Linked DNA regions of Homo sapiens. The protein of the gene in region 2 binds, or shares a complex with, the protein of the main gene of each other region. Each region holds a gene or a part of one and is shown on either strand. Other genes may lie near its edges.

Region 1 (3,756 bases), on a different chromosome or scaffold from region 2:
GGCAGAGAGTTCTAAGATAGGCACTAAAAACACGATCCATATATTGAGAAGTTGGACTTTAACAAAATTTGAAACTTTTTTGCTGCTAAAGACACTGTTAAGAGAATGAAAAGACAAGCCAGAGACTGAGAGAATATATTTACAAATCATATATTTGGCAAAGGATTTTGTATACACAACATATAAAGAATGCTCTAAAATCAGTAAGAAAACAAACCAATCACAAAACGGGTAAAAGACTTGAACAGACAAATCACCAAAAAAAATATGAATGGCAAATAAGCACATGAAATCATCAGCCATTAGGATGCAAATTAAAGCCATGACAAGATACCAGTACGCACAAAAAATATCACCAATACCAAATGGTAGTGAGGTTGTGGAGAAACTGTATCTCTCAAACACAGCAGCACCCCCTTCATCTGTGAGGGATACATTCCAAAGCCCTCAGTGGATACCTTAAATGGTGGAGAGTATGGAGAGTATCGAACCCTACATAAATACGTTTTTTCCTATACATACATTAGATAGACATACTTATGATGAAGCTTAATTTATAAATTGGAGCCAGTTAAGAGATTAACAACAATACTAAGAGTAATTATAACAATATGTCAGCGGCCAGATGCGGTGGCTCACTCCCTGCAGTCCCAGCACTTTGGGAGGCAGAGGCAGGCGGATCACCTGAAGTCAGGAGTTCGAGACCAGCCTGGCCAAAATGGTGAAACCCTGTCTCTACTTAAAATGCAAAAATTTGCGGTGCGTGGCAGCAGGCGCCTGTGACCCAGCTACTAGGGAGGCTGAGGCAAGAGAATCGCTTGACCCTGGGAGGCGGAGGTTGCAGTGAGCTGAGATCACACCATTGCACTCCAGCCTGGGGGACAAGATAAGAGACCTGCCTCAAAAAAAAAAAAAAAAAAAATGCCAGCATCACTAGTCTTGCACTTGGGGTCACTACTAAGTACAATAAGGGATTCTCAAACACAAGCACCAAGACACCAGACAGTCAATCTGATAACCAAGAGTGACTAACTAGCTGGTGGGTAGTGTATACAGTGTGGATATGCTGGACAAAGGGATGATTTACACCCCACCTGGGACAGAATAAGAGGGCTCAAGGTTTTATCACTATATGACCCAGCAGTTGAATTTCTAGATATTTATTCTAGAACAATTAAAACTTACAGTCACAAAAGAACCTGTACATTAATGTTCATAGCAGCTTTACCTGCAATCACCAAAAACCAGAAACAACCCACATGGCCTTCCATGGGTAAATGGTTAAATGTGATACAGCCATAAAATGGACAAGCACTGTGCAATTATCAAAAGCAGGAAAGTGACACTAATACAATATTCATCACTGAACTACTTATTGAAATGTCAGCTTTTACATTCTTTTGTGTGTCTAATTCTAGGACATTGTGTCATGTGTACAGATTCATGTAACCATCACCATAAACAAGACACTGAACTGTTCTATCATCTCAAAGAAAGTCAGCCCTAACCCCAGCAAAACCGGTCTGTTCTGCATTTCTATAATTTTGTCATTTTGAGAATCCTATATAAATGGAATCATACAATCTCTGAGACTGGCTTTTTTCACTCAATACAATGCCCTTAAACTCCAACCAAGTTGCTGCATGAACCAACAGTTTGTTTCTTTTTTTGATGGTGGTGTTCTACCGCAAGACTATCACATTTTATTTAACCATTCACCCACTGAAGGACATGTGAGTTGTTTCTGGTTTTTAGCTATTATAAACAAGGCTTCTACGAGCATTCATGTACAGGTTTTTTTGTGAACGTTTTTATTTCTCTAGGATAAAGGCTCAGGAGTGCAATCGCTGGATTGTGTGTCAAATGTACGTTTAACTTTTCGAGAAATTGCCAAACTAATTTCCAGAGTGGTTATATCATTTTACATTCCTACCAGCAACATATGAAAGATAAATTTTAGAGTCAGCATTTCTAAAGTATTTTCTGCAAGTCTGAAAAAACAAGATTAAACTTCTTAAATGTTATAACCTGAACTTATTTTTAAAAAATGAATTTTAAAACTTTTTTCCTGATTCCCAAATAACAGATTACCTCTAAGAAAAAAATGCATACAGCTGACCCTTGAACAACATGAGTGTGAACTGTGCAGGTCCACTTATACACAGATTTTCTTCTGCCTCTGCCACTCCAAGACAGCAAGACCAACCTCTCCTCTTGTTCCTCCTCCTGAGCCTACTCAACACCAAGACAATGAGGATGAAGACCTTTAAGATGGCCCACTTCCGCTTCATGAACAATAAATATATTTGCTCTTTCTTAGGGTTTTCTTAATAATATTTTCTTTTCTCTAGCTTATTGTATTGTAAGAATATAGCATATAGTACATATACAAATATGTGTTAATTGTTTATGCTATTGGTAGGGCTTCTGGTCAACAGGCTATGAGTGGTTAAGCTTTTGAGGAGTCAAAGCTTATACATGGATTTTCAACTGCATGGGGGTCAGCACTCCCAACCCCTGAGTTGTTCAAGGGTACACTGTAATTACATATAATCTCTATGTTGATAGCTGTTGCCAAATTACATAGTAAACTGCAATAAGATGTGAAAAAAGCAACTCTAAAGACTACAGTAGAAACATTAACAGTTTCTCTCCCTGTGTCTTCCAGACACATTCTATAAATACTTAAGGTCTAATAGTTCTTTCTAACACTTAATATTGTGAAACGCAATCACAATGCACTAATACTTAGTGTCATCAAATGATGACTTTTCTTTAGCTGTCACTTGATAAAAACAATCTAAGAAAAGCAATTAACCTGAAATAAAGCTGTGGTTATCTTAGCTATGTCTAACTTCATGGTTTGTTTAATTTTAGATATAAATGACAATTAGATAATGCAATCTCTTTTGGATTCTTAAAGCAAGTATCTAAGTCTAGAGCAGACATATCTGCCGACATACAAACAGCCAGACAGACGGTCCTCAAAAAGAAAATAAAATAAATACACAGAAAGAAATTATAAGGTCCCTGGAACAGTGGAATGAGGCTGCTCGTGTTCCTAATGACTTTCAGTTCTCATGTTTAGTCCCCTGCAGGACCAACTATATTGTTCCTGATACTGAGCTCCACAAGACACGTGTCCTTCCATTATCAGTATGATATTTGCTTTAAAAGTATATGACAGACCATTCCCAAATCTCAAATTTAATTTGCTTGTGCTTGCAATTTAATTATTTACTTCATCTAGTATATCTTCCCATTTAATGAATTACTTACCAATAAACATTTTAGTATACACGTTTAATATTCATCTTAAATATTTGCCAGTGTGAACAGTATCTACCTTAATTTTCAAATCCTAGAGTACTGGTTCCCATCCTATGGGCAAGAAACCCATAGAGAGATAGGAGTAACTGCAAAGAATCATCAAAATCCATATACTTACCTAAAGACTAAATAAATGTGATTCACAAACATATATGTTTCCAAGCTGACAAAGATACTGTGGCTAATAAAAATCTTAATAAATTTCCTGAAGAATGTTGGTAAAAGTAGAGCAGTTTCTTCTCATCAGTATTTATTGATGAATACTAAAAATCTAACTCCTAATATGGGAGAAGGGCCATCGCTCGTACCTCTCTAGATTTTCTAGAGAGCTTTTCTTTTTTAAAGTGTTGCCCATATGTCACTCAGAACAGGAGGAGTAGGATGTGCTTGAATTTGAGTGCAAAGATTTAAGACAACATTGGGAGA
Region 2 (2,660 bases):
CGTCATCACACCCCTTGATTCTCAGCATCTGCCTGCCCAAATGGCCCGAGGTTATTCATGTTTCTTCAATAAACGCCAAATGGCCTGTTTATCCGTGGTCCTCAACATTGTCACCAGCACCCCCACGCATGCACCCCCACCAACAGACTGACCCAGGCCTCACCTGTGTCCCAGCAGCCCTGCCTGCCACACATCACGAGCAGCGACCCCACCCCTGCGCTCAGCACCCTCCCTGGGCTTGCACCATTTGAGTGCCTCTGTCAGGTAAGGGCTGTTCCTGGTAGTTAGCTGTAATCACATCAGACTTAGGCTAGAACCGTGCAAGGGACTGAATGCTTCTGGGTGTGCATCCGTGCTGGGGTGCACATGTGTGTGCCTACTGGACTCAGCCAAACGCCATACCCTTGAGTCCAAAAGAAGGTTCTAGAGGCTTCCCAAGGACATCCTCAGGGCTGGGACTGACAAACGCTGCTGCCACCCCTGCAGCCCCCGAGGGTCTCTTCTGTCCACTCCTGCCAGCCAGCTTGGGGTGCTGTGTGTGATTTGGCTGAGCAACCCGAAGCTTTCCATGAGGAACGCAGGTGGCTGGAGCCTCCCCACCACCCTCACTGCCAGGGTGAACAACTACAGTCGAGGCAGAAATGACACAGACATGGTTCTGTACAAAACCTGAAATATTTTTACTTTTTTAAAACTTTGATCTAAGTTGCCTTAGACCTCATGGACTCGATACAAGAGTAATATGAATTGGGAAATAAAACACTTTAATAGCCACGATAAACTTTGTTAGAAATGTACATGTTGCCAAAATAATAATAATAAAATTAAAAAAAAGAGAGAGAGAGAACAGCTTGATGTCCAGGTTAGATTATATAAATGTTCAACAAGGGCAGGGTAAAGGAAACTTTAAAAACACCAGTTCTGAATAAGCCTGGGGCCCCGTGAGACTCCCCCTCTCCCACCCAGTCTCGGGCCCTAGGGACTGCGTCCCTCCAAACAGGACAAGTGGGAGTGGATAAGGCCTCCACCAAGCTGCCTCTCCCAGTGGACAAAAACATCCAGGTAATGGGTATATAAACAAAGCTCATAAGAAATGTACAAATATAAAAAGCTACAAACATTAATAAATTACAGCATCACAAAACACGGAAACACTTCACAAGGTGCTAGTAAAATAACTGTATCCCCCAATCCCCTCATCATACAAGGAAAACAAAGAGCTGGTATTAAAGTTGAAGATTCATCTTCAAAATGTGTCTGAAATAGATCTTTTGTGTACTATTTGCTTCTGTAAAGACAGAGTGTAAGGCTGCACAGACATCACTTGTTTTTCAGGCAATACCTTAGTTCTTAAAAGAAAAAAATAATAATAATAAAAGGAAAGGAGAAGGAAAAAGCATCAGAACCCAACTGTCCATCTGACTCAGCAAAAAACTCGTATAAATGTTAATGAAGAACTCTATAGAAAGAAATTCCTAAAGATACTTTTACTCTTATAAAAAAGAAGTTATTTAAAAAGCTATTTACACGCTACATTCTATGAAAAATATGCTTCAGGAAATACATCTAAAATTAAAATACAGGATTGCCTGAGAAACAAATCCAGCCCCTCCGTGTCGATGGTGGACACACCATCCAGGTACGACCCATGCAGGCGACACCACACGCTGACACGGGAGAACAGAGAAGTGCCGACCGTAAGTCCTCGGGCCGCCTGGCCACTGTCCCTGCCCCTGCCCCTGCCCTGCCAGTCCCAGGGCAGGGGTGCCTTGGCTGAGAAGTGCTTCTCCAGAGTGTGGCCAGCAGGGCAAGACGGTCCCTGCCACATGGCTTAGCCTGGGCCTCCCAGACCCCAAGATGTGGCTGAGCCCTTGCCCTTTCCTGGGGACCCCACAATGGCTCCCCTGCCCGCTAACACACCAACCCAGCTGCCAGTCTTAGCTGCCCCCCAGAAATGCTCCTGGGCATTCAGGCTGAACACCCACCATCCTGCTGCCACCTGCCAACCAGAAAGCTCGGGGCAGACCCTTCCTCACCCGCCGAGCACTGTCTGGACTTGGCTGAGAATCACTCAGGAAGAGAAGGGGGGACATAAACATCCCACTTGCTCCTCCTCTTTCTGTGTTCTTTGCCTTTTTTTTTAAGCCCCTGGAGGCTGCCAGCCTGTGGCCAGCTCTGACTCTGGGGCTGGTGAGCATTGGCTCACTCTGTCTTCCTTGAAGGACTCATGCTCTCAGCAGAGCTGCAGAGGCCCTGCAATCACACCCACGCTCAGGGGGCCTGAAGGCTGTCCTTAAAGTGGAATAAGCGGTCCTCAAACTTGCAGGGCCGCTTTTCTGGGACAGATCACTCTTAGCAACTTGAGAAAAGACGTCCATTTTCAAATTGAGGGGCCACGCTGGGCTCGCTCTGCCGGCTGAAGGGACAGACGCTTGTTGGGGAGATGGCAGCCGGGAAGAGGCAAGGCCCTCCCTGGTGAGGCAGCTCGGCACCCTCCTGGGAGGCAGATGTTTTCGCGGGGCTCCGGGGGTCCTGAGCGGAGCAGAAGGATCCTGGCTTTCCAAATCTTAAAGGAGTAGTTTCCCGTTCCGATGAATTTTCAAAATTTTCCCAAGCCTCTGCTTGGCGGTCGCCATGCCCTTTTTCGTACGTTTTCCTAG

Evidence for each region. The genes of interacting proteins can lie anywhere in the genome.
Region 1: the proteins of PHF2 (region 2) and VRK1 are in contact, whole or in part, in a crystal structure (PDB 8F8Y), measured with the Homo sapiens proteins. Residues at the interface, in NP_005383.3 of Homo sapiens: Tyr7, Tyr14, Val16, Thr17, Arg18, Phe19, Met20, Ile21, Glu22, Trp29, Glu39, Ala42, Ile45, Asp46, Tyr48, Lys64, Tyr145, Ser147, Glu150, Lys175, Val178, Asp179, Tyr182, Ser183, Thr184; in NP_003375.1 of Homo sapiens: Pro2, Arg3, Val4, Lys5, Ala6, Ala7, Gln8.

Annotation. Positions count from the first base shown.
Region 1 is NC_000014.9:96,800,335-96,804,090, reverse strand, and holds part of VRK1 (serine/threonine-protein kinase VRK1), read right to left. Parts: intron 1-3,756. UniProt on the Homo sapiens protein: Serine/threonine kinase involved in the regulation of key cellular processes including the cell cycle, nuclear condensation, transcription regulation, and DNA damage response.
Region 2 is NC_000009.12:93,677,584-93,680,243, reverse strand, and holds the end of PHF2 (lysine-specific demethylase PHF2), read right to left. Parts: intron 2,657-2,660; coding exon 2,568-2,656; 3' UTR 657-2,567; downstream 1-656. UniProt on the Homo sapiens protein: Lysine demethylase that demethylates both histones and non-histone proteins. Enzymatically inactive by itself, and becomes active following phosphorylation by PKA: forms a complex with ARID5B and mediates demethylation of methylated ARID5B.